Regions from separate parts of the Homo sapiens genome. Here regions 1, 2, 4 and 5 are each linked to region 3. Evidence: fine-mapped expression QTL. A gene starts in region 3. Each other region holds a variant in brackets. All regions are shown on one strand. Distances are from middle to middle. Region 1 has its middle 23 kb from the start of NOTO. Region 2 overlaps FBXO41 (F-box protein 41). Region 3 holds the start of PRADC1 (protease associated domain containing 1). Region 4 has its middle 28 kb from the start of RAB11FIP5. Region 5 overlaps CCT7 (chaperonin containing TCP1 subunit 7).

Evidence for each region. PIP is the estimated chance that this variant, and not a neighbour inherited with it, causes the effect.
Region 1: its variant is the best candidate, but not a certain one, in a credible set for the expression of PRADC1 in transverse colon (GTEx, PIP 0.86).
Region 2: its variant is the best candidate, but not a certain one, in a credible set for the expression of PRADC1 in blood mononuclear cells (TOPMed, PIP 0.65).
Region 4: its variant is the best candidate, but not a certain one, in a credible set for the expression of PRADC1 in whole blood (TOPMed, PIP 0.68).
Region 5: its variant is the best candidate, but not a certain one, in a credible set for the expression of PRADC1 in whole blood (TOPMed, PIP 0.64).

What each region holds. Positions count from the first base shown.
Region 1 is chr2:73,176,718-73,181,819 of GRCh38, reverse strand. No RefSeq gene overlaps it. Among named protein-coding and RNA genes, the nearest start is that of NOTO, 23 kb to the left of the region's middle. RefSeq lists a silencer at 4,356-4,435 and enhancers at 4,258-4,931, 4,932-5,102. The variant A/T (reference allele first, on the strand shown) is at 2,899.
Region 2 is chr2:73,259,667-73,264,768 of GRCh38, reverse strand. FBXO41 (F-box protein 41) reads left to right here. Exons shown (of 13, transcript NM_001371389.2): 6 at 250-491; 7 at 716-831; 8 at 939-1,091; 9 at 1,461-1,556; 10 at 3,911-4,029; 11 at 4,222-4,380. Among named protein-coding and RNA genes, the nearest start is that of FBXO41, 22 kb to the left of the region's middle. The variant T/GT (reference allele first, on the strand shown) is at 2,793.
Region 3 is chr2:73,230,101-73,235,202 of GRCh38, reverse strand. PRADC1 (protease associated domain containing 1) reads left to right here and starts at 1,964. Exons shown (of 5, transcript NM_032319.3): 1 at 1,964-2,109; 2 at 4,990-5,090. The coding sequence starts at 2,043. It overlaps CCT7 (chaperonin containing TCP1 subunit 7), which reads right to left and starts at 895. Exons shown (of 12, transcript NM_006429.4): 1 at 819-895. The coding sequence starts at 824. RefSeq lists enhancers at 1,008-1,077, 1,198-1,247, 889-1,420 and a silencer at 1,708-1,917.
Region 4 is chr2:73,138,594-73,143,695 of GRCh38, reverse strand. No RefSeq gene overlaps it. Among named protein-coding and RNA genes, the nearest start is that of RAB11FIP5, 28 kb to the right of the region's middle. The variant A/G (reference allele first, on the strand shown) is at 2,836.
Region 5 is chr2:73,251,710-73,256,811 of GRCh38, reverse strand. It overlaps CCT7 (chaperonin containing TCP1 subunit 7), which reads right to left. Exons shown (of 12, transcript NM_006429.4): 12 at 3,807-4,172. The coding sequence ends at 3,951. It overlaps FBXO41 (F-box protein 41), which reads left to right. Exons shown (of 13, transcript NM_001371389.2): 13 at 1-2,122. Among named protein-coding and RNA genes, the nearest start is that of CCT7, 20 kb to the right of the region's middle. The variant T/C (reference allele first, on the strand shown) is at 3,071.

The sequences.
Region 1 (5,102 bases), 53 kb after region 3:
TCTATTGTGAACAGTGCCGCAATAAACATACGTGTGCATGTGTCTTTATAGCAGCATGATTTATAATCCTTTGGGTATATACCCAGTAATGGGATGGCTGGGTCAAATGGTATTTCTAGTTCTAGATCCTTGAGGAATCACCACACTGTCTTCCACAATGGTTGAACTAGTTTACAGTCCCACCAACAGTGTAAAAGTGTTCCTGTTTCTCCACATCCTCTCCAGCACCCCTTGTTTCCTGACTTTTTAATGATTGCCATTCTAACTGGTGTGAGATGGTATCTCATTGTGGTTTTGATTTGCATTCCTTTGATGGCCAGTGATGATGAGCATTGTTTCATGTGTCTGTTGGCTGCATAAATGTCTTCTTTTGAGAAGTATCTGTTCGTATCCTTCGCCCACTTTTTGATGGGATTGTTTGATTTTTTCTTGTAAATTTGTTTAAGTTCTTTGTAGATTCTGGATATTAGCCCTTTGTCCAATGGGTAGATTGCAAAAATTTTCTCCCATTCTGTAGATTGCCTGTTCACTCTGATGGTCGTTTCTTTTGCTGTGCAGAAGCTCTTTAGTTTAATGAGATCCCATTTGTCAATTTTGGCTTTTGTTGCCATTGCTTTTGGTGTTTTAGACATGAAGTTGCCCATGCCTATGTCCTGAATGGTATTGCCTAGGTTTTCTTCTAGGGTTTTTATGGTTTTAGGTCTAACATTTAAGTCTTTAATCCATCTTGAATTAATTTTTGTATAAGGTGTAAGGAAGGGATCCAGTTTTAGCTTTCTACATATGGCTAGGCAGTTTTCCCAGCATCGTTTATTAAATAGGGAATCCTTTCCCCATTTCTTGTTTTTGTCAGGTTTGTCAAAGATCAGATGGTTGTAGATGTGTGGTATTATTTCTGAGGGCTCTGTTCTGTTCCATTGGTCTACATCTCTGTTTTGGTACCAGCACCATGCTCTTTTGGTTACTGTAGCCTTGTAGTATAGTTTGAAGTCAGGTAGTGTGATGCCTCCAGCTTTGTTCTTTTGGCTTAGGATTATCTTGGCAATGTGGGCTCTTTTTTGGTTCCATATGAACTGTGAAGTGAAAAACTTGTAGCTTTTCTAAGCAAACATAAATACCTGCACTCTGGCAAGCTCCTCTACCTACCTGCCTACCTCCAAATCTTATATTTAGTTCATCATTTACTTCAGTGATGCGCAACCTTTTTCTGCATTTAGGAACACCTTTTTTTCTTTGAGACGGATTCTCGCTCTGTCGCCAAGGCTGGAGTGCAGTGGCACGATCTTGGCTCACTGCAACCTCTGCCTCCTGGGTTCAAGCGATTCTCCTGCCTCAGCCTCCCAAGTAGCTGGGATTACAACCACCACACCCAGCTAATTTTTGTATTTTTATTAGAGACAGAGTTTCACCATGTTGGCTAGGCTGGTCTCAAGTGATCCGTCCACCTCAGCCTCCCAAAGTGCTGGGATTACAGGCATGAACCACCGTGCCCATCCCCTATTTTTAAACGATTTTTTTTTTAAATTTTGGATCTCAGAAGCAGAGGGCTGAGATATTCTCTCCTGCTCTTTTGTGGGCATTGCCATCAGAGGTCCACACTAGACCCCACTCTTCATTCTGGCTTTTTCTCTTTCCCCCTATTTCCTCCTCCTCTCCTAGTAAGCCCTTCTCTTGTGTATTTGCTATTATTTATGGATCCATGTAAAATGTGCAGGGCTGTTCTGTATTTGTTTTTAATTTACATAAATGGTATTGTGTATAAATCTCTTTTTTAAAACTATTTTTAAAGTCTCTCTTTGGTGCTGTATGCATGGAAGTTTCATTGCTTCTAATAGCTGTTTTCTAGTATTTCACGTTGCAGATGAAAAGTCGGCTGTCAGGTTAACTATTTGCAGAAAATCTTTCTGTTGTTAAAAAGTTTGGAAGGTTTTTTTCTTTATCATCAGTATTCAAAAGCTTCAGGAAGATGATTGGGTGTGTATCTTCTCTCCACATGCCTTTCCAGCTGTAGGCAACAGGCAGTTGGAGGGGGTAGTTATCAATTGAGTTTTGCTTGTGTTGAGTCTGAGGTGTCTGAGAAACATCCTAGTGGAGATACCTAACCAGAAGTTAGATAACAGAAGTTGTCTGGACTGGATATAGATTTGGGAGTCATCTGCATGTGGGTTCTAGTTTGAAAAGAAAAATGAATGGATAAGCTCAGAGATGGAGGAGAATTGGTCAAGCAGGAAGATGAGTGGGCCAAGTTGCCAAAAGCAGAGGATCTATTACTATCAGTGACCAATGGTTTTCCTCCCCTTTCTTCTTTTTTTAAAACCATAATAAAATATTTCGAACACCAAGAAAGTTATAGATAAAAATGTAAGTACTCAAGAACTCACCATTCATCATTCTTGACTGTAGGTTTTGCCACTTTTACATGAGTTTTTTTTTTTTTAAATAAAAGCACATTGCAGACACATATGGGGCCTTTTGTACCCCTCTCCAGTCCTATTTGCTGGAGTCACCTCCAAATCTAATTTGGTATTATTTACACTCACAGACTCATACAATTCCTCCATATTTATTGACCCATAAGTAGCTTATAGAAGTATTTTGTATGCTTTTAAACTTCATATATGGGGCCAGGCACGGTGGCTTATGCCTGTAATGCCAGCACTTTGGGAGGCCAAAGCAGGAGGATTGCTTGAGCCCAGGAGTTTGAGACCAGCCTGGAGAACATAGTGAGACCCTGTCTCCAAAAATGTTTTTATTAAAATTATAAATATAAATTTAAAAAAGAAAAAACTTCATATATGTAGTATCATACTGTACTAATGCTTCAGCTTGCCTCTTTCACTCAGACTGTTTGCAAGTTTTATGTACATAACCCTAGTTTATTAATTTTCATTGCTATAG[A/T]GTATTCCAAAGATGAATATATTACACTTTGTTTATCCAGTTATACTGTTAGTGGATATTTGGTTGTGTCCAGTTTTTGGTTAACAGTGCTACAAAGGATAGCACCTGCTGCTCTGGGCTGACCGCCACACTCAGGCAGTTCTGGGAGTTGATTGGAGATCCCTGAAGGAGGTAAGGGCTGCTTCAGAGACCGCTAATGGAGCATCTGCTATATGCTAGATATTGCAAAATTGTAGCCCTTAATCCTCTCCACAACCTATGAAAATCACAACACCCCCCCCCCCTTTTTTTTTTTTTTTTTTGAGACAGAGTCTCACTGTCAACCCAGGCTGGAGTGCAGTAGTGTGATCACATGGCTCACTGCAGCCTTGACCTCCTAGTCAAGCCATACTCCCTTAGCCTCCCAAGCGATTCTCCCACCTCAGCCTCCCTAGTACCTGTGACTACAAGACGCATCACCATGCCGGGCTAATTGTTTTTTTTTTTTTTTTTTTTTTGGAGAGACAGGGTTTCGCCATGTTGCCCAGGCTGTTCTCAAACTCCTGGGCTCAAGCAGTCAGCCCTCCTCGGCTTTCCAACGTGCTACGATTACGGGCAGGAGCCACCGACCCCGCCGAAAAATCACCAATCTTTATAAGGAACACAAGGCTCAGAAACAGGGGTAACACAACTAGTCCAGGTCACGCAGCTAGTAAGTGGCAGAAGGGGGGGGGCACCCTCTCATCCCTCCAGGCTCCTCTGGCCCTGACCTTGCATTGTCCCTCCTTCCCCAGCGAACGCACTGCCTCAGCTCCCCTCTTACAGCCGCAGCCCTGGAGGAAGGGATGCTTCTGGAACTGCTGGGGTTGGTGCTCCGCAGTTGACCGGGACATTCCTGGGTTTGGTGCTGGGATGGAACCTGTCAGTGCCTACTGCCTGGGTATACTCCACCCAGGGGCAGAACAGGTGACTCACAGCACTGCCCAGCACAGAGCTAGGCCTGTGCCTGTTTTGGGGGTCCAGGTTCCTGGGTGCCAGAACCCCATTTTCTCAGTCTCCACAGAGCTGTACGAGGGGTACAGTGCCCTGGAGAATTTAAGCCCTTCATTAATGGTTTGTAAAAGTCTGGACTTCCTTTTGGGAAACCTGGGCTCCAGTCCTGCTGCTTGATGCAGGAACGTCACTGAGGTCCCCTGAAAAGTGGGGTGATAGTGTCAGGTGGTACTGAGCCCAGTGATGGAGGCAGCAATTTGTTTTGTAAGTGCCTGCGGCTCCTGGGCGCAGTCCCAGCGAGGACGCGAGAACGCGCGGGGATGTGAACGGTGGGGGGCGCCCGGAACCGAGGAGCTGAAGGGCCCGGCGGACGTAGGCCGTCATTTCTCGCGGCGAGCAGCAGGGGGCGCGCGCAGACTGTACAATGCTGGCGCCCCACCTCCCGGCAGCGGGCGGGGACGCATCCCGCGGGTCTCTAGAGCGGGAGATCGCGCGGGAAAGGGCCGTGCCGGGAAGGGGCTGTGCCGGGAAGGAGCGGAGGGATCAGTGCTTCGAAGGGATCTGTACGCCAAGATGATCCTAACTCCTTAGGAGCTTCGAAGCTACGGGAAATGAAGCTGGAACGGGGGAGAGGGGGAAGGGCGCTGTGCCCCGGGGGCGGTAAAGGATGGGTGGTGGTGGGGAACGGGGACACTGTCGAGCGCTGACTACCGCTGCGCTCGGGCTGGTGGAGTCACTGCTTCCTAACTGTGGGGAAGAAACAAACATTCCCCGCCCCTCCTCCCAGGAGGAAGAGCCGGTCACTTCTGGAAGTCCCAGCAGCTCACTACGGAACTTAGGGGAGGGTGAAGAAGAGAAGGCGTAGAGCGGGGAAGTGGCTTGGTCAGTTCAGAAGCACCAATAGCATAGGACTTCATAACCTTCCAAGAAGAGGGCTGGTTACAAAGCGTCTTCGCCTCCCAGGGGCTGGGTTGGGGGTGTCCCAGGAGCCAGAGTGAGGCATGAGTGGGGAGTCCCTGCGTCACTCCAGAGAGGAGGCCCGCTTGGGCACAGGTGCCCCAGGGACCAGCCTACTGCGCTTTCAAGCCCCTACGTCTTTCTAAGGGATGAGGGATCCTATCCTAGACCAAACCTGCCAGCCCATACTGAACATACCGCCTTTCTTTGAAAGAAAAGTGGGGGGGAGGCTAAAGACCTTCGCAGAGGGACCCTGAGATGGAATCAGATGCTAA
Region 2 (5,102 bases), 30 kb before region 3:
GTGAGTTTGAATGATATATAACCTTAAAAAGGAAGTTTACACAAGGGATGCCTTTTTGTAATTTGTAAAACTGGAGATGGGGTACCGCAAAGGACAGGGAGGCAGAGGCCCCTTTTCCTTCCTCCCTAGGCCCTGGTACCACAGCATGTCCATTCCTCTGCAGATCCTACCCTGCCCCAGCTCCCCACACACATCCCCACACCAGCCTTGACCCTCCACGCTCACTTTTGAACCCCTGGTATTCTGCAGCCCGCCCCGAGGGAGGCAGTGGGCGGGGTCGGCGAGCAGAGAGGGTCAGCCCCTCACGCTCCAATGAGGTCATCAGCCCAGAGATCCTGAAGATGCGAGCTGCCCTCTTCTGCATCTTCACCTACCTGGACACGCGCACACTGCTGCATGCTGCCGAGGTCTGCCGGGACTGGCGCTTCGTGGCCCGCCACCCCGCAGTCTGGACAAGGGTGCTGCTTGAGAATGCCCGTGTCTGCTCCAAGGTACCTGCCCCTGCCTGCCTTCTGTGCCCTGCTGTGAACCCACCTTTCCCCCTGGGTAGAATCTGGCCCCTTGAGGTCTGGTCCTTGCAACCCTTACAACACTGTAATGCCAACCTGGCTTCCCTGAAATGCTCTCATGGGGCCTTCTATCCTGGGGCTGGCCCACCTCCAGCCAACCAAGTTCAGACCCCTTCATCTCCAAATGTCCTTCCCCTCCCCCACAGTTCCTGGCAATGCTGGCTCAGTGGTGCACCCAGGCCCACTCTCTGACGCTGCAGAACTTGAAGCCCCGGCAGCGGGGAAAGAAGGAGAGCAAGGAGGAGTATGCCCGGAGCACCCGGTGAGGCCTGCGATGGGTGGGTGGTGGGTGCTGTTGGGCCACAGACCTGGAATTAAGTTTCCCAGAGGAGGAGGTTGCCAGCTCTCTGACCTCTTGGTCATCCCCAGGGGCTGCCTGGAAGCTGGGCTGGAGTCCCTGCTGAAGGCAGCTGGGGGGAACCTGCTGATCCTGCGCATCTCCCACTGTCCAAACATCCTCACCGACCGCTCGCTCTGGCTGGCCAGCTGCTACTGCCGTGCCCTGCAGGCTGTCACGTACAGGTGGGTCAACCGACTAGAAGCATGGCCTGTTCCCTCTAAGCCCAGGGTCCTACCGGATCCCTAGGTGCTGCATAGCCTCCCCCAGGGTTCTCAAGCAAAGGGATCCAAGAGCTCTATGGCTGAAGGAAAGGAAGCCTTGGCAAGAGCAGAGGCCACCACTGTGGGCGACTCCAGCTTTGTCTTGTATATTTTCTTTTTCTTTCTTTCTTTTTTTTTTTTTAAATGGAGACGGGGTCTCGCCGTATTGCCCAAGCTAGTCTGGAATCCTGGGCTCAGGCGATCCCCAACCTCGGCCTTGACCTCCCAAAGTGTTGGGATTACCAGTATAAGCCACCCTGCTGCCTGACTAGCAGCTTTGTCTTTTCACAGGAGTGCCACAGACCCCGTGGGCCATGAGGTCATTTGGGCCCTGGGCGCAGGCTGCAGAGAGATCGTCTCCCTCCAAGTGGCACCACTTCACCCCTGGTGAGCCCTGGCAGGTTTGGGGGATAGGAGGGGGGACACGGTTGGGCCTGGTCTGGGGCTGAGGACTTAGCAGATCTGAGCCCATTCCACAAGCTATTAGGACAGATCCACACACATTAATCTGTCCATTGAGGCATTAGGAGCAGGGCTTTAAAATCAGACCTGGTTGGTCGAGCACGGTATCTCACGCCTGTAATCCCAGCACTTTGAGAGGCTGAGTCGGGCGGATCACCTGAGGTCTGGAGTTCGAGACCATCCTGACCAACATGGAGACACCCTGTCTCTACTAAAAATACAAAATTAGCCGAGCGTGGTGGTGCATGCCTGTAATCCCAGCTACTGGGGAGGCTAAGGCAGGAGAATCGCTTGAACCTGGGAGGCAGAGGTTGCAGTGAGCCGAGATCGTGCCATTGCACTCCAGCCTGGGCAACAAGATGGAAACTCCGTCTAATAAATAAATAAATAAATAAATAGATAAATAAAATCAGACCTGGGGTCATGTCCTGGCTTACTGGCAGTGCCACCTTGGCAATCTCAATCATGTCTTAGTTTCTCAAACTGCAAAGTAAAGGTGGTATTAGGAACTATGGACCTTAGGGCTGTTGCTCGCCCAAATGAGATCAGGTACACAAAGCCTGCAGGGTCCACAGTAATTGTTCAGTAAACACCAGCTAAAAACCACCAGCTTTGTTTGACATATGAAAGGTGGTTCAGGGAGGTCAGTGTATGAAAGAGCTGGTCATTGGAGAATCCAGGTTATGAAATCATTTCTCACTCTGTTTGGAGTTCCTCTAACACACCAGGCTCTTTTGCTCCCTACATTTTGCCTCTCTCCACGCGACAGCTCCTCCCAGTCATCCAGTGTGCCTTCTGTAACACCCTGGGTAGAGTGTGTCACTGCTCCCCTGCCTCAATCCCCACTGCATGTTGCCCTGACCCCTCTGTCATCTACTTTGCAATAATTTCTTTTTTTTTTTTTATTTAGTTTTTGAGACAGAGTCTTGCTCTGTTGCCCAGGCTGGAGTGCAGTGGTGCAATCTCAGCTTACTGCAACCTCCACCTCCCAGGTTCAGGCGATCCTCCTACCTCAGCCTCCCAAGTAGCTGGGACTACAGGCATGGGCCACCATGCCCAGCTAATTTTTGTATTTGTAGTAGAGACGGGCTTTCACCATGTTGGCCAGCCTGATCTCAAACTCCTGACCTCAGGTGATCTGCCCGCCTCGGCCTCCCAAAG[T/GT]GCTGGGATTACAGGCATAAGCCACCGCGCCCAGCCCTACTTTGCAATAATTTCTTTATATTTCTATCTCCTCCACCAGATGGGTTGTTCTCAAGGCAGAATCTAGGAATGTCCATTTCTGTATCCCTAGTACCAAATGCATAATAGATGCCAGAGAGATGTTTGTTGCCTGGGCAAATGTTGAGGGTTGAAATGTTTAGGGAAATGGCATTTGGTGTGAATGGAAAGGAAAGTTGGGGCAATCAGGAAGGGCCTTGCTAAGGAATTTAGGTTTTTTTGCATTTTATCTAGAAAGTATTGGAAGCTATTTGGCGGGATTTTAGATTTTAAGAAAGGGATTAAGATCAGACTGTTAATGTTCTATGCCCCCCACAACTTCTGCCACCAAAGAGACTGTCCACTCTTTGAGGGTAGAGACCATGTCTATGTTGTCACCGCTGTACCCCCAGGGCCTAGCTCAGTTGTTGTTGACTTGATAACCACTTGCTGAATGGCAGAGTGAGTGGATGTAGGAATGAGGGGCTCCCTATCTGCAGTGTGGAGGATGAGATGCAGGGAGACTAGTGCTAACCCAGAGAATGCCAATGGTGGTCTGAACTGTGGGTTCAAGAGTACTTAAGGCCGGGCGCAGTGGCTCACACCTGTAATCCCAGCACTTTGGGAAGCCGAGGCAGCAGATCACTTGAGGCCAGGAGTTTGAGACCAGCCTGGCCAACATGGTAAAATCCTGTCTCTACTAAAAGTACAAAAAAATGAGCCGGGCATGGTAGTGCATGCCTGTAGTCCTGTCTACTCGGGAGGCTGAGGCAGGAGAATTGCTTGAACCCAGGAGGCAGAGGTTGCAGTGAGCCGAAATTGCACCACTGCACTCCAGCCTGGGTGACAGATTGAGACCCTGTCTCAAAAAAAAAAAAAGAGTGCTTGGGAATCAGAATCTGCAGGACTTGGTGGATGAGATGAGGGCAGAGGAGTCAGGGATGATCCTGGTTCTCTGACTTGACCTGCTGGGTTGTTGGAGGAATGCTTGCCTGAGTCAGGGAGGGGTCCCACAGGAGGAGCATGCTGGGTTATCAAGCATCCAGAGACTTCCCTGACGGCTCCCCCTTCCCATTCTCCAGCCAGCAGCCCACACGCTTCAGTAACCGCTGCCTGCAGATGATTGGTCGCTGTTGGCCCCACCTGCGGGCCCTGGGGGTCGGGGGTGCCGGCTGTGGGGTGCAGGGCCTGGCATCACTCGGTGAGTCTTTCCTTGGACTGGGGTGGTGGGTAGTGGGAAGCAGGCATGGGTGCAGTGCTGCCTTGTGAAATCCCACAGGGGCTTGGGGCTGCAGCCTGGGTGGTGGCAGGTGGCAGGGTGGTAGCCAGGGTGCTGGCTGCAGGGGTGACCTGGGGAGTGTGTCAGCAGGATCCCCCTTCTTCCTCTTCCTAGCGAGAAACTGCATGCGGCTGCAGGTCCTGGAGCTTGACCACGTGTCAGAGATCACCCAGGAGGTGGCAGCAGAGGTCTGCCGGGAAGGCCTGAAGGGACTGGAGATGCTGGTGCTCACGGCGACTCCCGTCACCCCTAAGGCCCTACTGCACTTCAACAGTGAGCACTGGGGGAATGAGGGGCAGGGTACGACTATCACCTGCCACGGGGCCCTGTCAGCAGGTATCCTAACTATCACTGGGGCAGATGGATCAGAGTCTCCAGCCAAGGGCAGAGGCAGGGGGACAGGTTAAGAGCACTGGTTCTAGAGCCTGACTGACCTAGGTCCCAGGTCTGGCTCTGCTACTTATTAGCTGAGTGATGTTGGGCAAGTTACTATACCTCTCTGAGTCCTGTATTCCCATCTTCTAAGCTGACTTTCTAGGATGGGTGAGAGGATTAAATGAGATGATATATGGAAGCCCCCCCAAGGACAGTTCTCAGGGTGAAGACTCCTCTCTCCCTGGACTCCAGATCATACCTCCTTGGCTTCCACACCTTTCTCAAACCACCCACTCCACTCTCAGTCACTACTCCACCTGCACTGAGGACCTGGCACCCAGTGTGGGCTGCTCCTGCCCAAGGAGACCACCAGCCAGGACCCTTTGGCTCCTGAGAGGACCCCATGCCAACTGCGCCAAGGTGCCTTGACCCTCTTTCCAAGACCTTCCTCCCCCTTCAGCCACATGGGATACCCTGGACTTTACCACCAGAACTAACTGCTCAGCCTCCAGAATCATGACCTCCAGGCCCTTCTCAGTCGCCTGATCTTCCTCTACCTCCCCCGACTTCACGACATATCCAGTCCCTGAAGCCCTCTGTCCCCAAGTATTTGCCCCACC
Region 3 (5,102 bases):
GGGCTACAAGGAGCACTTTAGGTGGCTCCAGGACTCACAGCAACTCCCTCGCCCCAAATTTCAAGAAAACGAGACCCAGAGTTAGGTAGCCAACTAGAAAAGCCTTTCTTATGTCACCAGAGTCCGAGCCTGGGTCTTCCCACCTCCGATACAGTGTCTCCATCTACCTTTCCCGTTCTCCTGGCTGAGAGGCTGCAACCCCCAGCAACCACCAGGGCCTGGTACATTCAGTAGGCACTAAAGACGCGTTTATTTAATGACTGAGCGAATGAGTGAATGAATTAAAAGTACTAGGGAAGGCGTCTGCTTCTCTGCACGCTGCGGTGAGGGTCAGCGAGTGAACATAGTGAGTCCCTAGGCGGGCACAATATGAGGTCCCCAATGTGCCTGTGCCGGTTCCAAGAAGCACACGTCTTTACAGCCCGCAAATCTCAGAGCAGCCCCAGCTTCCAAGTCTAGCTGCCGACCGCGTAACCACGGCCGACCTGCACTCGTTTCACGCAAGTCCCGATCATGCGGGGCTAAAAAAGAGGTCCCCGACGTGGGTTCGCGGGCCCGAAGCACCCTGGGACTTGTAGTCCCCAACCGGCCAGCCCAGAGACTCCTCTAAAGCCCCACGCAGCCCTCGCCAACGGCTCCAGCGCCGTGCTCGGGCCGAGCCAGGCCGCGGCTGGCTGGGGTCGCCCCTAAGCTGGGGATCTGGGCGAGGACAGAGGCGGCAAGCAAAAGAGGGTCCTACAGAGCAAGCCCAGGCCGAGCGGCGCCGGCCACCGGCCAGATGGCAGCTGATGGCGACGGATGCGCGAGACGCCACTCACCATCATTTTGGAAGCTTATTCAGCGGCCCGCCACTCTCCCCTCTTCTCCGAGACCGGGCCGCCCAGCAACCCACAATGCCTCGCGCAATAGAAATACCCAGAAGCTTGGGCCGGGAGAGGAAGAGAACGGACCACTTCCGCTACTCTATGGTTCGTTACCACCGACTCGGTGCGGCTAGAAGGACCTGAGGCTGGGCTTCGGGGACTCTCTAGTGAGGGGCGTTCATTAAAGAGGGGTCGCCGCATTTCGGTCGTGCTTCTTAGAGCACGGAGGGTCTTTGCTCGGCCCGCATCACCTACTAACTTAATTCCACCCTCCTCCATCCCCGGACGCCAGACCAAGGAATGCAATAAAGGCAAAAGTGTGGGACGCAAAGTGTGGGATAGGCTGGTGCCAAAGCACTTTACGTGAGCGATCTCATTTAATCCTCACAACCCTATTGCGTTGGTCCTATTAAGGCCATTTTACTGATGACAGAAAGGAGGCTGAGAGGTCAAGGTGTCCAGTGTCACAGTTACATAGTCAGTGTCAACGGGACGAGCGTGGGAAGCTGCCCCCAATGCCCGTTTTCTGGCTTTGCACTGGCCAGAGGCTCCTCGTGGATGGCGTGCGCCAGGCCGCGGCCCCAGCGCCTATCCACGGTGAGCGCGCAAGCGTTGGTGGCACTGGGCGGAAGACCCCCTGGCGCAAGACGAGTGCCTTCCCGTGAAGGCGTGGGGAGGAGGGAAGCGCAGCTGGGAGGAGGGAAGCGCAGCTGGGAGAAGGCTAATCGTCGTCAATCGAGGCGGCCTTGGAGTGGACAGGACCGAGACCGCAAGGGTTAACGGCCTCGACTATCGACAGCTGAAGCAAGTCCGGCTACGGGCACACCTCCAGTGCTTGTCCTCCCTGGCCCGCCCACCGCCAGCGAGGACCCGGAGAGTATGCTGGGGCGGGGCTGAGGCGAAGGCCGGTTGTAGCTGTTAAGAGTTTAAGCCAATCAGCCCCCGGCTCCACTTCTCTCGACCAATAGGAAGTAGGCTAAGGCGCAGAGGCGGAAAGTGTGGCTACATGAGCAGGCGTCAGAGCCAATCAGCCTTGAGCCTCGTTCCCGTCGTCCAGCCCGCGGCGAGAGCGGGTATGTGGGCGGGAGGCCGGAGCAGCTGTCAGGCTGAAGTCCTGCGAGCGACGCGCGGCGGGGCGGCGAGAGGAAACGCGGCGCCGGGCCGGGCCCGGCCCTGGAGATGGTCCCCGGCGCCGCGGGCTGGTGTTGTCTCGTGCTCTGGCTCCCCGCGTGCGTCGCGGCCCACGGTGAGCGGCAACGGGTGGGACTGCGTTGCAGGGCGGGGCTGGCCGTCCAGCTTGCGCGCGTCTCGGGTTGGGGGCCAAGGGTCACCTTGGGGACCCTGCGAGTTCAGAGCAGGACAGGTCTGGGAGCGGGCGGCCGGAATAAGTGGGTGGTGGTCCAAGGACATAAAGTGGGCGCAGCCTGAGGCTGAAGCTCTGACTCCTCACCTTCCCACGACAAAGCAGATCTCCCCACTCGCCCCTCCCCGCCCACTAGCGCCGACCCAGGTGACTTAGGGTGCGACCAGAAGGGACAGCTAAGGAAGGATACTACAGGCTGGAGATATGTATGTGAGCATTCACATGTACACAGGAGCACACATTCCTACACGTGGGCACACACGCACAAACCGTTTACACCTACACAAGCACATAAATGTATACATCTATGCACATAAGTGAGCACATACGTATACCCACAACTTACACAAATAAGCACACACAAAGGCAAGCAAGGGTTGGGGAGGAGGGAGTGAGTTTGACGCTAGTCCAGGAAGGCTTTCTGGGGGTGTATTTGTATCCGAGAGGGAGTCCCCACTCCCAGGACTGTATAGCCCAGTGCCAAGCCATGGGAGCTCTAACTGATGGCTGTGATTTGGGCAGTAAACAAAGACAGCTAAAGCCTTAATGCCATCCTTGGTACACAGTAGTGACTTGGTAGTTTGTTGATAGACTAACAGACTTGTGACAGCAGTTTTCTTTTTTTCTTTTTTTTTTTTTTGAGACGGAGTCTTGCTCTGTCGCCCAGGTTGCAGTGCAGTGGCCCGATCTCGGCTCACTGCAAGCTCCGCCTCCCGGGTTCACGCCATTCTCCTGCCTCAGCCTCCCAAGTAGCTGGGACTACAGGCGCCCACCACCACGCCCGGCTAATTTTTTTGTATTTTTAGTAGAGACGGGGGTTTCACCGTGTTAGCCAGGATGGTCTCGATCTCCTGACCTCGTGATCTGCCCGCCTCGGCCTCCCAAAGTGCTGGGATTACAGGCGTGAGCCACCGCGCCCGCCCATGACAGCAGTTTTTATCTTTCAACATTCCGCAGTCTCTCTGGGTTAAGGAAACCAGGGACTCAAGTCCAGGTACAACATTAAACTTTGGTGCTGAGGAGAAGATCCCATGCCCCAGAAAAATCTAGTGGTCTGGAAATTCTCTTCATCGGTGCTGTGGAGCTAGATATAGTTGTTCACCCATTCAGGAAAGTTTATAGGGCTATCCCTATATTGTAGCCACTGTGCAAGACACTGGTGACTCTTCACTGAATGAAGTTACAAAGTGGAAGAGGCAGATATTTAAAAATTATGAATCCAGGGCAGGTGCGGTGGCTCACGCCTGTAATCCCAGGACTTTGGTAAGCCAAGGTGGGAGGATCACAAGCCCTGGCAACAAGGCGAGACCCCATTCCTATTTAAAAAATGAAAAAAAAAAATCAGCCTGGTCAACATGGCGAAACCCTCTCTACTAAAAAATACAAAAAAAAATTAGCCAGGCATGGTGGCGCACGCCTGTAGTCCCAGCTATTTGGGAGGCTGAGGCATGAGAATCGCTTGAGCCTGGGAGGTGGAGGTTGCTGTGAGGCGAGATGGCGCCACTGCACTCCAGCCTGGGTGATAAAGTGAGACCCTGTCTCAAAAAAAAGAAAAAGAGGCCGGGCGCGGTGGCTCACGCCTGTAATCCCAGCACTTTGGAAGGCCCAGGCGGGTGGATCACGAGGTCAGGAGATAGAGACCATCCTGGCTAACACGGTGAAACCCCGTCTCTACTAAAAATACAAAAAATTCTCCGGGCGTGGTGGCGGGCGCCTGTAGTCCCAGCTACTCCGGAGGCTGAGGCAGGAGAATGGCGTGAACCCGGGAGGCGGAGCTTGCAGCGAGCCTAGATCGCAACACTGCACTCCAGCCTGGGTGACAGAGCGAGACTCCGTCTCAAAAAAAGAAAAAAAGAAAAGTTATGAAAGCTGTATAATTACAAATTATGTTGAAAGTCCCCATTTATTAAAAAGTACATTTGAATGGGTATGGGAGGGCAATCATGAGGCAGAAGCTTTCTCTGAGGAAGTGACATTTAAGGTGTGACCTGAAGGATGACTAGGAAAGAGTCAGGTAAAGGGGTGGAAGTAGGGTGGCGTGGGAGTAGGGGGCCTTCCAGGCTCAGGGAACAGCCTGCAGAAAGACCCAGAGAAGTGAAGACACTGAAAGGCCAGTGTAGCTTGAACACAGGATGGAGGAGATGAGGTTGGAAGAGTGGCCAGGGGCCACAGCAAACAGGGTCTTGTAGGCCACAGTTTAAAAAGAGTTTAAATTTTAAATGCAAAGGGCAGTTATTGAAACCCTAGGTATGGTGATGTGCTCATAATTGCTAAGATGTTTTCGATTTCTGGTTGTTGCTTGGGGAGCAAGAATGGAGGCAGGGAGGCCAGGTAAGAAGCTGAGCTGTCAGGACAAGAGATGATAGTGACTAGACTTAAGGGGATGGCAGTGGGACCAGAAAGTCAACTTTTAAATTTTAGTGAGAATTGCTTTGTACGCAGGCCACTACATCTCTACCCTGAAACTCCCAGGTCTTCAGAGCAAAAATACTAACCCTGGAGCTCTCAGTTTTCCTGGCTTACTGCGTAAGCAGCAGCAGCAGCTGATATAAGCCTCTGGGGTTAATGACTCTGCATCAACTCTATCCTCCCCAGGACAGAGGCCATCTAGCCCCCAACCCTGCCACTAGTGGACCCCGTTGGCTGAAGCCAGGACCCTGAGCCCAGACTATAGCCAGCCCAGCTGAAGACACAGGGTCTGGGATCTGAACCTGAACCAGCTTGTTCCTGGGAGGCTTCTTACCTGTACTCTTTATCCTTCAGGCTTCCGTATCCATGATTATTTGTACTTTCAAGTGCTGAGTCCTGGGGACATTCGATACATCTTCACAGCCACACCTGCCAAGGACTTTGGTGGTATCTTTGTAAGTTAAGGG
Region 4 (5,102 bases), 92 kb after region 3:
TGACTAATAGGCCTCTCTTGGCTGCTCCAGTTTTTGCTAAGATGGGATTTTGCTTGGGCTGTTGGCTCCCTACCCAGGTTAAACACAAGAGAAATTATAGAGGGAAACATGAAAGCCAGGAAATAACAACAGAGAAGAAACTCCTGTGGAGCTGACAGGCTGTTTAGAACTGGGGAGTGTGTGCCTGCATGTGGGAGTGGGGGGTGGTTGCAGCCTGAGGGAGGTGGCTATGATGGTAAGGATGAAGGAAGAGAATAGTGATTGACTCTCTACTCTTGCCTCTCCTGCACCTTTGCATTGGCCAGTCATCACTTGCCCTCACGGCAGAACTGCAGAGGCTCAGACCACTCGCTGGTCAGGATGTCCATGGGGATGAACTCAGGGCAGCGTAGATCCCTGCCAGGGTGAGGAGTTGAATTAGGGAACAACCATTTTTGAGCAATCCCTCCACTCTTTCCCCTCCAAATCACCAGCCTGGCCCATCCCATCAGTGGAGACAGCTTCCTTCTAGCCACAGGGTGGAAAGTGAAACCAAGGCCCCTGGGCAGGATGAGAACAAACCTGTGGTTGTGCAGAGCCTGGGGTGCTCCACTCAAGATCCGAGTCCTCATCCTCTCCTTGAACTTAACAGACTGGTAGATACTAAGGAGTGGCCTTCTGCCTTCCCCAAAGGGCATTACAGGGCAATAATGAGACACTTGAAGGGCAAAACTAAACCAGAAGAAAAAAGGAATGCACAACATATGACACCAGAAGCAGCAGGACTGGGCAGGAGTATTAGTATCAATTGACCAACAATTTCAAATCAGCTCTATAGGCCAGGCACAGTGGCTCATGCCTATAATCCCAGCACTTTGGGAAACCAAGGCAGGCAGATCACTTGAGTTCAGGAGTTCGAGACCAGCCTGACCAACATGGTGAAACCCCATCTCCACTAAAAATACAAAAATTAGCCAGGCGTGATGGCAGGCACCTGTAATCCCACCTACTCGGGAGGCTGAGGCAAGAGAATCACTTGAACCTGGAAGGTGGAGGTTCCAGTGAGCTGAGATCATGCCGCCACACTCCAGCCTGGGCGATAGAGTGAGACTCCGTCTCAAAAACAACAACAGCAACAACAACAAAAACAAATCAGCTCTATAAATACACGAGAGATATGAGAAGTAAGGTATGAGCAGTGTAAAACAAGAACAAGAAAAAAATTAAAAGAATCAAATGAAAATATTAGGTATGAAAAAGATAATGGAAAGAAAGAACAAATAAATTAGTAAGTAATAGTTGAAAAGTAAATTAGAATATCATATTGAGAAACTGCAAGAAGAACTCACTGAAGAATGAGGAGGAAGAAAAAGCTAAGAAATAAGGAGACTAGAAGCAGAATACCCACATTCATATAATGGGAATCCAGAAGAAAACAATAAAAATGAATGGAAAAATACATTTGAAGAAACAATAGACATACATTTTTCATATTTAGAAAGAATGAATGACTTCAGATTGAAAGGGCCTACTGCATAGAAAATAAGAGAGAGAAGGGAAAACCCGCATAAGATATAGTATGGTGAAATTTAAGAATACCAAACAGGAAATTCTAAGAGAATTAGACTGACGTCAGACCTTTCAACAACAACATTTGGGTGTAAGAAGATAATGGAGTAATATTTCTTAAGTAAAAAAGAAAAATAAGTTTGAACCTACAATTTTACATCCAGCCAAGTTGTCATTCAAGTGTGAAAAGGTAAAAATAAAAATATTTTCAGGCAGGGGGTGCACAGTGGCTAATGCCTGTAATCTCAGCACTTTGGGAGACCAAGGCAGGTAGATTTCTTGAGCTCAGGAGTTCAAGACCAGCCTGGGCAACATGGCAAAACCTCATCTCTACAGAAAATACAAAAATTAGCAGGGTGTGGTGGTGTGCACCTGTAGTCCCAGCTACTCGAGAGGGTGAGGTAGGAGGATCACTTGAGCCTGGGAGGTGGAGGTTGCAGTGAGCCGTGATTGTGCCACTGCACTCCAACTTGGGTGACAGAGTGAGATCTCATCTCAAATAAATAAATAAATAAATAAATAAATAAATATTTGCAGGCAACGAGGCCTTAAAATGCTTGCCTTACAAAGAACCACATTGAAAACCATCCCTGGAGTGCCAGAAAACAAGGCCGCATTCAAAGGTCAATGGAGTAATTTCAAATGGTTTAACCTAATATATAAAACAAATTGTTTTAAAGATGTTGACAATTGTTATATCTAGGTGGAGGGATGTATTGATGTTCATTGTACTATCTTTTCTGCTTTTCTAGAAACATTTTACAATTAAAAAAAGTTAAAAACATTTTGGAGGAAATACTCAAGAAGAAAAACCTAGGAGACTTTGCAAGAAATATTTAAATAAAGGTGATTAAATACATTGGTAACATATTCTGTTGTCTAAACAACAACAGCAGGAACAGCAGCAGACTTAAGACCAAAGACAAAGGGAAAGCAAACCCATAAGAATCCCAAATTAAAATTCTGGACAATATTACATTGATAGTGGGTTGTGAGTATCTAGAAATTTGGGAAATCCCCAAATATTTGGAAATTAGCATATTTTTACATTATCCATGGATCAAAGAAGAAATCACAAGGAAAATTATTAAATATCTTTTGAACTAAATGAAAAAGAAAATGCAACGTATCAAAATGTATGGGATGCGGCAAATGCAGCATTTAAGGGAACTGTATAGCTATAAATACCTAGATTAGAAAAGAAGAATGGTCTCATATCAACAATCTAAGCTTCTACTTTAAGCAACTGGAAAAAGAAGGAACAATTAAATCTGAAGCAAACAGCAG[A/G]AAGAAAATAAAGATTAGAGTGGAAATAAGAAATAGAAAACAGAAGTCCGGGCGCAGTGGCTCACACCTGTAATCCCAGCACTTTGGAGGGCCGAGGCGGGTGGATCACCTGAGGTCGGGAGTTCGAGACCAGCCTGACCAACATGGAGAAACCCAGTCTCTACTAAAAATACAAAATTATCCAGATGTAGTGGCGCATGCCTGTAATCCCAGCCACTCAGGAGGCTGAGGCAGGAGAATCACTTGAACCTGGGAGGCAGAGGTTGCAGTGAGCTGAGATCGCACCATTGAACCATTGCACTCCAGCCTGGGCAAGAGGAGTGAAACTCTGTCTCAAAAAAAAAAAAAAAAAAAAAATAGAAAACAGAAAAATGATAGAGAAAAATCAATAAAACAAAAGGTCTGTTTTTTGAAAAGGTTAACAAAATTGAGAAATTTTTAGCTAGACTGACCAAGAGAAAGAGAAAACATAAATTACAAAATCACTACTGACCACACAGAAACAAAAATAATTACAAGGAAATATTACAAATTGAACAATTTGGATGAAATGGACAAATTCCCAGAAAGATACAGATTATTAAAACTGACTCAAGAAGAAATAAAGTCTGAATAGGCCTATAGCAAGTAAATAATGGGATTAGTACTTAAAATCTCCCCACAAAGAAAAACCCAGTCACAGAACACTTTACTAGTGAATTCTATCAAATAATTTAAAAACACATAATACCAATCTTTCACAAATTATTTCAGAAAATAGGGGAAGAAAGTACACTTCCGAACTCATTCTGTGAGGCCAGTATTACCCTGATTCAAGACAAAGATATCATATGAAAAGAAAGCTACAGACCAACATCCTTTTTGAACACAGATGTAAAAATCCTTAGCACAAAATTAGCAAATAAAACCCAGCAACACATACATAGAAGCGTATACCATGACCAAGTGGGCTTTATCCCAGGAAAGCAAGGTTGAGTTAACATCTGAAAACCAATTAAGATGAATCACTGTATTAATAAAATAAAGGACAAAATCATATGATCTCAACAGATGCAGAAAAAACATTTGACAAAATCCAACATCCATTGATGGTTAAAAAAAAACCCTTGAACTTGGAATAAAAGGGAGCTCTCTTAACTTGATAAAGCATATCTAACTGAAACCTACCATCAACATTACATATAATGATGCAAGACTGAATGTTTCTCCTTGAGATCAGGAACAAGGCAAGAATGTCAGCTCTTGCCACTTTCAATCAACATTGTCCTGGAGATTCAAGTCAGTGTGATAAGGCCAAAAAATAAGAATAAAGGCATCAACATTGGAAAAGAAGTAAAACTGTCTTTTTTTCCCACAGATGACGTGATCCTGTATATAGAAACAACAACAAACTACTGTTGTCGCCTGTAATCTCAGCACTTAGAGAGGCCAAGGCAGGAGGATTGCTTGAGCCAGCCTGGGCAACATAGCAAGACCCATCTCTAAAAACAAAACAAAACAGATAAACTATTATTGTTAAGATAGCAATATTGTAATATTGCCCAAATGGATCTGCAAATTTAATGCAATCCTGTGACATAACAAGAAATATATATTTGGTCTCTTCCCCGGGTTCCTAGCACAGAGCTGCTAAAAGTCTTGTGATTCCCCTGAGTGATAGGGGTGAGAGGAACACCTTTGGTTATTCATAATAAGCCCCTTTCAACCATACCTGGGTTTATGCTAATGAGGTGACTCTTGGAGGATGGGGGCTGGTTGACAGAGGAACCAACCTTGTAATTAGAGGGTTGGAATTTTCAGCCCCATCTCTTTGACCTCTGGGGAGGGGAGAAGGGCTGAAGATTAATGTCAGTCACAGAAGGTCAATGATTTAATAAATCATGCCTACATAATGGGACTTCCATAAAAACCCTAAATGACAGGGTTTGGAGATCTTCCAGGTTGGTGAACACATTAAGGTGCTGGGAGGGTGCGAGGCCTGAAAGGCTATGGAAGCTCTGTGCCCCTCCCTCCTCATACCCTGTCTCTTCCATTTGGCTGTTCCTGAGTTGTATCCTTTATAATAAACCGTACATGTAAGTGCTTCCCTGAGTTCTGCGAGCCATTACAGCAGATTATTGAATCTGAATAGGTGGTTGTAGGAAACCCTCACTTGTAGCTAAGTCACACAGAAGTGTGGGTAACCTGGGGACCCATTACTTGAGATTGGCATTTGAAGTCAGGGGCAGTATTGTGGGACTGAGCCCTTAAGCTTTGGGGTCTCACAC
Region 5 (5,102 bases), 22 kb before region 3:
AAGGAGGTTGGGGTGTATGGGTAGTGAGCTAGGGTGGGAGAAAGGTGGTGCTGAAAGGACAGATGCTAGTTGTAGTTTCACTCACTCATTCATTCATTAGTGCAACAGTACTGAGCACCACCTGCACTAGAGGCAGAGGGGTGAACAAGATACCCTTCTGCCTGGGGGGACGTCCACTTCCCATGGGTTTGGCTATTTCCAGGAAAGCCCCTCAGTCCTCCACCCTGTTCTGGCTGTGTGTGAAGGATGTGTGTGAGCAGGCCCAATCCTTTGCAGCAAGAATGAGAGGTCAGAGTATTCCATTGCACACGCACCCTGGGGCTGACAGACTTGTGCCCCCTAGCCTTCATGCATGCCCAAGCACTGGCAGCTTTGCAGCCCCTGCCCCACCAGCCCCTTGACGCTCTTCTTTTGTTCTCTCCTCGGGGATGAGCTCTGCTGCTGAGTAGGGAGCTTTTGCTTGCTGGGAGGCTCTATGCATGGATTTTTTTGGTGACCATACAGCTAGGGCTGAGGATGGGAACAGGGACAGAGGGCCTGGCTATCCCTAGAAGCACTTCATCCATCTTTACCCACCCAAACGGGATCCCTTCACATCTCATACCCAGTAAGATGCAAGAAAGGAATATCTGAGAGCAAGCAGCCCTGCTCCAGGGGCCCCAGGTATGTGTAGAGGCCCAGTGGGGGTGGCCACTTGGTGTTTCTACCACCCCCTGCCATCCAGTCTGGCCCCAGTACCTACCTGGGAGGTTGGTGTACTTGGCTTAAGTACTTCATGCTTTATTCAGGCTGCTTCCCCACAGCACCGGCAGGAAATGAAGGTGCACTTATATGCATCCCTGCAGGAATAAAGAGTGGGTGGCCTGCCCAGCCCAGCACCACAGCCTTTCCCCAGCCAGGAGAGACCACCTAAGGATCAAGGCAGCTCCTGTTTTCTTGGTTCTGTGACACTCGAGTCTGAGCCAGCCCCTCAGGAATTGCCTCAAAAGAGAAAAACAAAAAAAAGTCCTCCTTCCCAAGGCCTGCTACTCCAAGGTTTGGCTCCATCCCTTGCCTTTGGGTCCTGCCTATTTCCCCACTCCTGGTCTCTTATCTTTGGGGCCACCAGTGGGGAGTCACCCGGGCCCCAATCCCTCTAAGGCGCTAAGTTGAAGGAGGCCTTCCCAGAGTGACTATTGGTGCCAAAGTCCCAGTTCCTGTTGGACTTGGGGTAAAAACAGGAGATGGTGAGTGGGTGTAAGGCCCAAATGCCCAGAGAAGTTAACTCGAACCCATGGGACCTGTCCCAGCCTGTCAGTCCCTGATGAGTGTAACTTCCTTCCCCTGGGGGCCTGGCCCTTCTCTCCAACCCAGTGGCCATGCTTTCTCACCCAGCCTTGTGCCCGGCCTGCATTTCTGTATATATTGCTGTGTATTGTGTGTATGTATGTATTCCTGGACAAGTGTGTTCATCTGCAGCCCTTGCCTGAGGATAAGGTTTAGGATTGGGTAAAGATCAGAATACCAGGGCCAGCTAAGGCAACGACTCCCTCCCCAAACCCTTGGGACCTCAGCCAGTCCCAAGGCTGCCCTGACAATCAGGCAGGCTCCCCACCGTGAGGCCAAGCCTCCTCTGCCACTGCCAGCATGGCCCAAGGGAGGCTTGGCCTTGGGCTTGCCAGCCTCAGCTCTGCCCTGACAAGGGTCTTGTATCCAGGGCAGAGGCCTGAGGTGACCCAGGCTTGCTTTGTGGCTGATGCCAGCAGGCTTGGTTCTAGTGGGCACCACTGGTGGGCAACCTCCATAACTGGCCCTTAGGCCCTACCTTCCTACACAGCTAGGCTATAATGGGCCTGAGTGAGAGGGTAGCTTCCCCAGCCCCAAGCACAGGCAGAGGGGTGGAGAGCAATTTTTGGTTTTATTTTTGTTTCTGAAGTGGTGCCTGTACCTCCAGCCCCCAGGGGGCCTTCCCTGGCCACACTTCTCTGCCCCACCCAGGCATCGCCATCCCAGCACTTTGCTCCATGTCACCCGTAAGATGCCCTTTGCTGAATGTACCTGAGTGTATGTATTTAAAAGGACTCACATGGGCATCAGAGAATTTATGGCTCTGTATCCAATAAAAAAGATGGTGAAACTGGTCTATCTGCCCCAGAGAGGTAAATGGTATGTGGCCACACTTATCATCTGTGTTATCATGGTCTTTCTGCAGCTCAAGTGCAGAGAGGCAGGTAACCCAGGGGAATGAAGTATAACAAGACTTGCCAGCGGGCACAGTTGCTCATATCTGTAATCCTAGCACTTTGGGAGGCTGGGGCGGGAGAATCACTTGAGCCCAGGAATTCGAGACTAGTCTGGGCAACATAGTGAAACCCTGTCTCTGCAAGAAAAACTGAAAAATTAGCTCGGCATGTGCCTGTATTGCCAGCTCCTTGGGAGGCTGAGGTGGGAGGATATCGAGCCAGGGAAGTGGAGGTTACAGTGAGCTGAGATCACACCACTGCACACTCCAGCTTAGTTAACTGAGTGAGGCCCTGTCTCAGAAACAACAAAAACTTGCCTCAGGACTGCAGAAAAGCCACCTAGGGTGACTGTCCTGCCACCGCTCAACCCTGCTTTCAGTGTGTGTATCCAGAGGAAACGCCTTGAGATACATCATTTCTGACTCTCAGCTAGGAGAGACTACCTTCAAGGACAAAACCAGTACAACAGGGCAGCAGGCACTGCCCAGCCCCTCCCTGGCTTGACTGCCTACTCAGGAGGCTCTGGCCAGCCAATCAGGCTTTGACTGCGGGAGACCAGGTTGACATCATGGCCTGGCCTTGACTTCCTCATTTTACAAAATGTCCTTCTGCCCCTGACTTGATTCCTCAGGTCCTGAAATATTTAAAATCAGAAAAAAGAATAAGTGTTTTTAGGCTTAAACTGTGTCTCTAACATAAAAATAAACATTTAAGTCTCACTACTCTTTGAGCCAGCTACTCTTACCCTGTCATACAGGTAGAATAGCAGAGGCTCAGAAAAATTAGTCTACCTAAAGACCATCAAGTTAGGAGGAATGCCAGACTCCAAAGCCTGGACCTGCCTGCCA[T/C]CCTCTGTGCTTTAGAGTCCATCTAACCAGGAGTGGCTGGGTTCAGAGAATTTTTTTTAAAAATCACTTCCCAGTTTTAGCTAGCAAGTCTCAATGGCTGACAATGACATCATCATTTACCTCCAGCTTTTAACAACGACCAACTACAGCAGGGTGCAGGCCAGCTATCAGGACCAGTGTAAATCAGGAGGATGTTAGACACTGCTGGATTTCCAGCTCATCTGTGCCAGCCATTCCAAACTCCCATTGGTCACAAGAAAGCAGAAGGACCAAGATCACTGGGGGCTGAACTGAAAAGACTAGGTGGGTGCTTTCAGTCGTCTCCTTAGTAGACTTCCAAGGGATCACTAGAGTTTAGAGAGCATAAGCCCTCCCTAAAACACCCTTCTCACAGTCTTGAGTAAGAGGGAACAAAAGACTAAACCAAAAGAATATGGAGATAGAAGGGGCAGACAAGGTAATGTAACCCATTTACTCAAACCAGAGAAACCCTGAGAGCAGTGTCTGGCTAGGCCAGGGCTAAATAAGATGATGCCAGAAGAAAGCAACTGCGTGTTGTCCAGCCACTTCTGGAACAAAGAATGCAACCACAGTGAAACTTCCAGACGGGCCACTCTAGTGGAGCTCACCCCAGGATGCTCTTGTCTCCCTGTTGGACAAGTGCATGTAAAGCTAAAATTCTGAGCTACAGCCAGACATTTATGAGTACCATGCCAAAATAATTTACAAAGTTATCTGAAGTCTTACATTTTATTTAAATAGCCTCCAGTAAGAAGAGAGTGGGCCAATTACTACCCCTTCCTTGTAAAATGAAGTAACCAAGCCAAGGAGGGTAAGTGCACCCAGCAGCCAGCCAGCCATGTGATGGGTGGGGTGCCTCTCAGTGGGGGCGGCCACGACCACGGCCCCGGCCTGCTGCTGTGGGAGCATCCACAGTCGAGCGGGGGTTCTTGATGGTTTCATCTACAGACACGATCAGGCACGCAGCCTCAGAGGCTGCTGTCAGCGCATTGATCCGCACCATAGCTGGCTCCCACACGAAAGCTTCAAAGTTGTCAGCAATGTCCTCGTTGTTGATGTCTACTCCATACCATGTACCCCCCTAAAAGAGTAGGAAAAGAAAGGAGGTAATATGGAACTACTTTCAACTTTCCTCTTGTAAACTGGTACTCCAAAAGACACTGCTAGGAACCCGCAGACTCTCTGAACTTGGTGGCATTTCGCTGAAGAATACTGCATCTTCCTATGAGCATGCCAGGAACCTGGAAACACCCCTACTCCCGCCAACTCCTCCCCTTAGCCCTGGACATACCACACAAGACCTCTGGGATCTTCTCCCAGGCAAGCTGTTGTGTTTTGGGGCGGCCCCATCCTCAGGTCACCTGAGGACTATATATATATATATATATATATATATCAAACAATGAGTTCTCAAGATAAACAGGAATAACAAAAATACTATCCCATCTTTCATCTCATTGCTTCAAATAGCCCGATTTTACAGATGAGGCAAGTGAGACACAGAGGTAAAGTGACTTTAAGCAAAAGTCCTAATACAAGCCAGAAGCAGGGTCATTCACTGGGTGCTAAGCACTTAACAAACCTCTATCTATTTAACAAATGGAGAAATTAAACTCTCAGAGAGGTTGAAGTAACTAGCCCAGGGTCACACTTGTAGGGCTCTGGAGAGCTTCACCACACCAGTAAGCCCACTCCATGTGGTCAGTATGTGCTTCCAGGAAGGTGGATGCAAGGTTCCTCCTGTGGTACCATAAGAAGCAATCATACTCTTTTTTTTTTTTTGAGATGGAGTCTCACACTACCACCCGGGCTGGAGTGCAGCGGCACGATCTCTGCTCACTGCAAGCTCTGCCTCCTGGGTTCAAGCAATTCTCCTGCCTCAGCCTCCTGAGTAGCTGGGATTACAGGTGCCCACCACCACGCCTGGCTAATTTTTTGTATTTTTAGTAGACATAGGGTTTCACTATGTTGGCCAGGCTGGTCTCGAACTCCTGACCTCATGATCCGCCCA